Regions from separate parts of the Homo sapiens genome. Here all the other regions are linked to region 2. Evidence: fine-mapped expression QTL. A gene starts in region 2. Each other region holds a variant in brackets. All regions are shown on one strand. Distances are between the middles of the regions.

Evidence for each region.
Region 1: its variant is fine-mapped to the expression of OSBPL6 in subcutaneous fat (TwinsUK, PIP 0.95).
Region 3: its variant is fine-mapped to the expression of OSBPL6 in whole blood (TOPMed, PIP above 0.99).

The regions. Positions count from the first base shown.
Region 1 is chr2:177,932,066-177,934,565 of GRCh38, reverse strand. The region is part of intron 2 of PDE11A (phosphodiesterase 11A); the gene reads left to right. Among named protein-coding and RNA genes, the nearest start is that of PDE11A, 140 kb to the left of the region's middle. The variant G/TGG (reference allele first, on the strand shown) is at 1,498.
Region 2 is chr2:178,193,055-178,195,909 of GRCh38, reverse strand. It overlaps OSBPL6 (oxysterol binding protein like 6), which reads right to left and starts at 1,398. Exons shown (of 25, transcript NM_032523.4): 1 at 1,236-1,398. RefSeq lists silencers at 414-708, 1,155-1,844.
Region 3 is chr2:178,304,013-178,306,857 of GRCh38, reverse strand. It overlaps OSBPL6 (oxysterol binding protein like 6), which reads right to left. Exons shown (of 25, transcript NM_032523.4): 3 at 572-828. The coding sequence starts at 673. Among named protein-coding and RNA genes, the nearest start is that of CHROMR, 110 kb to the left of the region's middle. The variant G/A (reference allele first, on the strand shown) is at 985.

The DNA.
Region 1 (2,500 bases), 260 kb after region 2:
TCCACAGTGGCTACAGTAATTTACATTCCCACCAGCAGTGTATGAGCATTCTCCTTTTTCCACAGCCTGGCCAATATCTGTTGTTTTTTGACTTTTTAGTAATAGCCATTTTGACTGCTGTGAGATGGTATCTCATTGTGGTTTTGATTTGCATTTCTTTGATGATTAGTAATGTGGAGCATTTTTTTACATGTTTCTTGGCCACTTGTATGTCTTCTTCTGAGAAGTGTCTGTTTGTGTCTTTTGCCTATTTTTAAATGGGGTTATTTGTTTTTTGCTTGTTCAGTTGTTTATGTTCCTCTTAGATTCTGGATATTAGACCTTTGTCTGATGCATAGTTTGCAAATGTTTTTTCCATTGTGTAGGGTCTGTTTACTCTGTTGATGGTTTCTTTTGTTGTGCAGAAGCTCTATAGTTTAATAAGATCCCATTTGTCAATTTTTTTTGTTGTTGTTATTGTAATTGCTTTTGAAAACTTAGTCATAAATTCTTTCCCAAGGCCAGTGTTCAGAATGGTGTTTCCTAGGTTTTCTTCTGGGATTCTTACAGTTTGAAGTTTTACATTTAAATCTTTAATCCATCTTGAGTTAATGTTTATATATGGTGAAAGGTAGGGGTCCAGTTTGATTCTTCTGCACATGGCTCGCCAGCTATCCCAACACCATTCATTGAACAACGAGTCCTTTCACAATTGCTTATTTTTGTTGATGTTGTTGAACAACAGGTGACTGTAGGTGTGTGGCTTTATTTCTGGATTCTCCTTTCTATTCCATTGGTCTATGTGTCTGTTTTTGTACATGCTGTTTTGATTACTATAGCCTTGTAGTATAGTCTGATAGTGTGAAGTTGAGTAATACCACTGGCTATTTATTTATTTATTTATTTTTTATGGAGTCTCACTCTGTCACCCAGGCTGGAGTGTAGTGGTGTGGTCTCGGCTCACTGCAACCTCCACCTCCCTGGTTCAAGCAATTCTCCTGTCTCAGCCTCTGGAGTAGCTGAGACTATAGGTGCAAGCCATCATGCCCAGCTAATTTTTGTATTTTTAGTAGAGATGGGGTTTCACCATATTGATCAAGCTGGTCTCGAACTCCTGACCTCAGGTGATCCACCCACCTCGGCCTCCCAAAGTGCTGGGATTACAGGTATGAGCCACTGTGCCCAGCCTGGCTTTGTTCTTTTTGCTTAGGATTGCTTTGGCTATTTGGGCTCTTTTTTGGTTCCATATGAATTTTAGCCTAGTTTTTTCCAATTCTATGAAAAATGACATTGGTAGTTTGATAGAAATAGTGTTGAACCTATAGATTGCTTTGAGCAATATGGCCATTTTAATGATATTGATTATTCCAATCAATGAGCATGGAATTTTTTTCCATTTGTTTGTGTCATCTACGATCTTTTTAAACAGTGTTTTGTAGTTCTTCTTGTAAAGATCTTTCACCTCCTTGGTTAGATGTATTCCTAGGTATTTTATTTGTGTGTGTGTGTGTGTGTGTG[G/TGG]CTATTGTAAATGGGATTATGTTCTTGATTTGGCTCTCAGCTTATACATTATTGGTGTAAAGAAATGCTACTGATTTTTGTACATTAATTTTACATCCTGAAACCTTGCTAAAATTATCAGTTCTAATAGCCTTTTGGTAAAGTCCTTAGGATTGTCTAAGTATAGAATCATATCATTAGCGAAAAGAGATAGTTTGACTTCTTCTTTTCCTGTTCAGATGCCTTTTTTTTTTTTTAACTCTTGCCTAGTTGCTCTGGCTAGCACCTCCAGTGCTATGTTGAATAGGAGTGGTGAGAGTGGGGATCCTTGTCTTATTCTAGTTCTCAAGAGGAATGCTTCCAGTTTTTGCCTGTTCAGTATGATGTTGGCTGTGGGTTTGTCATAGATGGCTCTTATTATTTTGAAGAATATTCCTTCAATGCCTAATTTCTTGAGGGTTTTTATCATGAAGGGATGTTGGATTTTTATCAAGAGCTTTTTCCTCATCTATTGAGATGATCTTTTGATTTTGTTTTTAATTCCATTTATGTGGTGAATCACATTTATTAATTTGTGTATGTTGAACCAATTTTGCATCCCAGAAATAAAGCCTACTTGATTATGGTAAATTAATTTCTTGATGTACTGTTGAATTTGGTTTTATGTATTGTTGAATTTTGTTGAATATTTTCATGTCTATGTTCATCAAAGATATTGTCCTGTAGTTTTCTTTTTTCATTGTGTCTTTACCAGGTTTTGGTATCAGGGTGATGCTGGCTTCATAGAATGAATTAGGGAAGAATCCCTCCTCTTCAATTTTTTAGACTAATTATAGTAGAATTGGTACCAGCTCTTCTTTGTACATCTGGTAGAATTCAATTCATATGGTCCAGAGATTTTATTTGGTTGGTAGGATTTTTATTACTGATTCTATCTCAGATATTGATATTGGTCTGTTTTGTGTTTCAATTTCTTCCTGATTCAATCTTGAGAGATTGTGTGTTTCCAAGAATATATTCATTT
Region 2 (2,855 bases):
GTGAAGACTACATTTCCTAATCAGCTTAGTGATATGTAACCATTAGTATGCAATTTTTAAATTTAAGAAAAGATGTCCAAGAAAATTATTTAGAAAAAAAAAATCACAACTGAATATAATAGACAATTGGCTAAACTTAGCCCAGCAATTTAAAAATGAAAGTTCCTATAGAAAAAACCTTACAGGATTTTGTGTCCAGAAGAGAGAAATAATCTGGCAACCCAGTGGGTTCACTTAGTTTCGTGTCATTTGCTTCATGTCCATTATGTAATGCTTCCCCTAGCTTTAGGTCTCTATGTTTAAGCAACCGTTCAGGTATATCATAGAATTGTCACAAAATCAGTATCTGGTTATAACTTTCAAAAACAGCTTAAAAGGTGCCTTGCAGATGTGTCTATACGCAGCAGAAGCTTTGGGGAGAAAATCCGCTTGTGTCATTACTTCTCCAGGCTTTCTCCTCAGGTCTCCCATTCCCTCCTCCCCCAGCATCCCCGGCGACACGATCTGCGGGCAGCTCCCGGCTTGATGCAGGGGAAGCACGTCTTGACTGCAATGCAAACGCTGTCCCGGTCTGAACCAGGGAAGGCAGACTTGGCCCTGGCCGGGGGAGTGGACGGAGGCTGCCGGGAGGGCTGCAGGGGCGCCAGCAGCGGGTGGGCAGGGGTGCCCCGCGAGGGCAGTCCGCAGTGCACGCGCACAATAAAACCCAATGCACAACTTCCCCAGCCGCTCCTCTCGGCTTCCCCGATTCCCTGAAAGGTGCGGCGTAGGCGTTAGCTCTCGCGGGCGCGGGCGCTCTCACCCGCGCCGGTTCGGTTTTCCGCTGACAATTACATCAGTCCTTCTCCCTGCCCCTGCTTCAATCCCCAGGCAGCCTGCGGGGAGCAGGGGCGCCGGCCCGCGCGAGGGAATGCGAGCGCTAGTGGCAGGCGGCCGGAATTCCCTGGCAACGAGGGGGAGGGAGGGCGGCAAACCGGGACCGCGATACAGACGCCCCCTCCCATCCCGGCCGCGAGAATGGGCTGACACCGCCGCCCCCACTTCCCTGTAGCCCGGGCTATCGGCCGGGGGCGCCTCCAGGGGGACGGCGATGTCCTGGGGACCCGAAGCTGCGGCTGCCCACCCACGCGTCCCTCGGGGTCCTCGGCCCGCCGGAGGCGCACAATGCCCCCGGGCCGCGATGCGGGCACCTTGGCGCCCGCCCCAAGCAATCCCTTTGCAGCTAGGACACCTACCTGGAGGGCGAGCGGTGGCGCCGCGGACTCTGCGGCGGCTGCGCGGCTGCGACGGGAGGCAGGAGGCGGAGAGCCGGCCCCGGCAGGCGGACTGGCGCGCGGGCTAGTGGAGGAGAGGAGGCATGGGCGCCGCCTGCACCGAGCCGCGATCTCCAGCACCGACAGCGGCGGCGGCGACCGTGCTGCGCCTCCAGTGGTCCGCTGCGCTGCAGCCCCTCCTCTCCCACGGGCGGGGCGCGCTGGCGGGGCGGCGCTCCGGGTTCCCCGCCCCCGGCTCCCGCCCGTCCGCCCGGCTGGAGTGGAGCGGCAAGCGGCTGGGGCTCATGCTGCGCACCCGCCCTACCGGGCGCCCCTCCCTGCGCCGCCAGATGGGCTAAGGACCCGGCGCCCTGCGCCCTGGTCACGCGGGGTCCCACAGCCAGGGCTCTCCCCTGGCCCGGCCTCCGTGGGAACCCGTGGTGTCCCGAGATCACCCGCAGTGGAAACCCCGAGTTGCCATCCGCGGGCCTGCGCGCAGTAGCGGAGCCCTCGCCCCGCGCAGTCCGGCGGAGGTGAGCCGGCCGCGCTCGGGAGGGTTGCCCAGAACGGCTCCAGCGCTCGGCCCAGGAGCGCCGCAGCCGGGAGCACTGCGGGAGACCGAATTCCGAAAGGAACGGCTGCCTGGCGGCCTCCGCTCGGGGCTGCCAAACCCATGTCCCTGGGCGCCCTTCTGAGGTCGTCATTTCATACACTTACGCGACTGTGCGTGCCTGCTCCCGTCCCTGACTCGCTCGGGAGCAAAAACTTCCCGGGCCCAGAGAAACACCTGGGTTCTGCGAAAGGAAGAGCCGGTTCCTTCAAGCCCCTGGCAAAGCCGATCAAAGTCAGTCAGTCCCGCCTCACTACAACCCTTCCACACCCTTAAACCCTTCCACACTCCAAGCCACTCCCGGCCTGCGTTCGGTGTGCAGATTAATCTAAAGGCAAATTTGCTGGGAGGGACGGGGTAATGTAAATATTTGTACAGACATTCTGTAAACGAGTGACTGCGGACATGTCAATATTTCAAGACATTTGTGTCATCATCATCTGGGGGTGGGAGGCGGAGGGGGAGTCCAGAGGACATCGACTGGACTTAATGGGAGCTATTACAGAACATGCTGGGGTGCCTTCAAAAATGGAAGATATTGCTTACTAATGAGGCAACTGTGATGGCATTTCATTGTGCCCTGTGCTGACAAAATGATTTGCTATGAAACATAGTCGACTTTATGCACTCCTTCCCACATGCAGTTTCTCTTGAATCTCCAATCTCACCTGTTGGATTAGCTTTTTCCATCTAGACTAGCAATGTTCTCATGTCCTCTGGTCACAAAATAATAGATGCGGGACCCTGCGACAATGGCAGTTTGTCCTTCATTCCTTTGCTGTGAAGACAGGCTCCTCAAGGGAGCAGCTGGGATGCTGACCTCTGCTTCATCACAGCCACCCTTTCTACTTACTCCTTCTGAGTTCCATTAACAGAAACTCTACTGAAATGGCTTTCTCCCTTAAAAGAAAAAAAGCTAAAACCCATGTATTTAAAAAGAAATACAAAAGTGTGAACGGAAATGAGAGTACACACAGCACACAGAATCTTTA
Region 3 (2,845 bases), 110 kb before region 2:
ACTGGCTCAAATGGGACCATGGGCGTTTTCTACCATGATTAAGTAATAACCATTTACTTTCTCTGTTGCCTGTAAACATTGTTTGGGTTCTCACAGCTCTTAATTCCTGGTATTACAATTTTATCTGTAACCTAATTCCTGAATCTAGCTGTTACCAGATTCCACAAAATACCAAACAGAGTTAGGGCTTGGCAGCCCAGTGACAGCCTTATAGGAAGACGTCCTTTGCAGGGTTCACAGTTCCCTTTCCACCTCCATGAACGAAGAGAAGAGTGTTCAAGTTCTTGATGCTGGCTCCCCCTCCAGGTGCAGGGAGGAAAAGACGGCAGGGCTTCTCATAGCCACCCTACCAGCCTTCTGTGTCTGCCTTCTAAAAAAGAGTCCTAAATCACAGAGAAGCAAGAGTGGGAGCTTCATGACATCAATGAACGTACCTACAGAAAATGACGATTTTTCACTTGGAATAAAAGACTTTACAACAAAATTTCAGAATTAATTAGCAACCCCATCCTATCTCAGTGGTATTGCATTTGCATAAAACAACCAAAGGCACTTAATGCTCTTCTCTTACCTGCCTACTGTCCCTTTGGGAGGATGTTGAAGAGGAGGCACTTCTATGGGTTGGAGTGGATGTTTTATGAGCAGGGGAAATGCCCTTCTCATCTGAACTCATCGCTGCAGTTAGAGTCTCGTTTTATGCACTTAAGACCATCCCAATCTTCTCTCAAATCCACAAACAAAGAAGTAGATGATTTTTCAGCTTCATTCCATTTCATGAATCAGGTTTGACTAGAAAAGAGCAGGCAATATTGAGGGTGTCCAAACCACCTAAAAGCAAAACAAACAAGCCTCATATAAGTAATTAAAAGTCAAATTAAAATCATTATCTTTAGGATGAAATATTAATTTGTGTTAGTGAGAGGAGGAACTCTGACACATTAGGAAATACTTCTTCCTCTAGATTTTAAGGCGGAAGATGAAAGT[G/A]TCAGTGTGTAAAAAAAAAAAAAAAAAGGACTGTTAACAAGCAAAATGGGAAGAAATCATGTACTAAAGTCATATTCTCTCCTCTTGCATTTTCTTTGTTTTAAAGCAGATTATAACGCTATATTTGAGACCCTGATGCTAAAGACGCCAGATTCTCCTCCGGAAACGTAATCTCTCCTACCCAATGGACTAGAATAAGAGCTCGGTCCATGTTTGTCTTCAGTTTAGTTTAGCTATGTCATGTATGTGACGGTTAATCCAACACAAAGTAGTCAGTTACAAAAGAGTTAACACATTGTGTGCATCCTGTGATCCAGCATTTGTGAAGGATCCAGGAATACATATATCCACATTTATTTGTACCTCAAAACTACAGCATGCCTACATGTGACTCTCAACAACCAACATGCTCGCAAACATCTACAGATTGACAGGTTATCTTAGAGCAGGGGTAAATGGAGTTCCTTCACTTATGCACAGCCAACAGCCACTTCAATTTTTTTACTTGGATTCATGTAAGGAAGGTTTGCATTGTTAGTATTAAGGTTAAAGCTTGTGTCAGAGAGAAGCTCTTAAATTGGCCTTGTCTCCAACACAGCTATGCTAAAAAATGTTAAAAGGTAAGCACTATGGTATAACATTAAAAGCTTAAAAAATGATATTTCCCAAAAGATAGACAATTAAAGTGAACTTTATCCTCTTACAAGAAGAAGGTCACATTCTAGCCCCCATCTTAATGCTAATATCTTCTTGGAGGAAGTACAGAACACCAGAACACTTGTGTAGGCTTGTTAGCACAGGCTGGGAAGGAAAGCTGCTAGCAGGAAACAGAAATCAATTTTTAGGCCACAAAAAAGTGAGACCTGAACTTCAGTCCAGAGGGTGAGACACTGAATCAGATAAACAAAAAAAGATGGAGATATATGGGCATTATGAAGACAGTGACTGAGGTGAACTAATGGATCTGGGAGTTAGAGCTGAGGTCCAAAGAATGAGCGGTTTACTAAGTACCAGGGTGTCTGGCGTGACATGATCAACAGATGAGTGGTAGCCAATATGACTAGAGTCAGAGATATGGCGATATGGTGGTCAAAGAAATGCAGAGACCAGTCCCTGCAGGACCTTGTAGGCCATGACAGTTGCTATGGTCTGAATATGTGCACCAAAATTCATGTGTTAGAAACCTAACCCCAACGCAACAGTATTGGGAAGTGAGGCCTAATGGGAGGTGTTTAGGTCATGAGGGTGGAGCCCTTGTGACTAGGTTAGTGCCACTATATAAACAGCTTGTGATATGGTTTGGTTGTGTTCCCACCCACATCTCATCCTGAATTGTAGTTCCCATAATCCCCATATGTCATGGGAGGAACCAGATGAGAAGTAATTTGATCTTGGGGGCGGTTACCCTCATCCTGTCCTCATGAGAGGTCAGACCTGATGGTTTTGTAAGGGGCTTTCTCCTCTTTTGTTTGGCATTTCTCCTCGCTGCTGACATGTGAAGAAGGAAGTGTTTGCTTCCCCTTCTGCCATGATTATAAGTTTCCTAAGGCCTCCCCAGCCATGCAGAACCGTGAGTCAATTAAACCTCTTTCCTTTATAAATTAGGTGCTCTTGGGTATGTCTTTATTAGCAGCATGAGAATTGACTGATACAGCTTGTGGGAGTGGGTTCTCTCTCTTCTGCTTTCCTGCCATATGACGACATGAGGTTCCTCCTCTCCAGAGGATGCAGCATTTGAAGTGCCTCTTGGGAGCAGAGAGACAGGGCCCTAACCTGCTGGTGCCTTGATTTCCCAGCCTTCGGAACTGTGAGAAAGAAATTTATGTTCTTTATAACTTACCCAGTCTTGGGTATTCTGTTA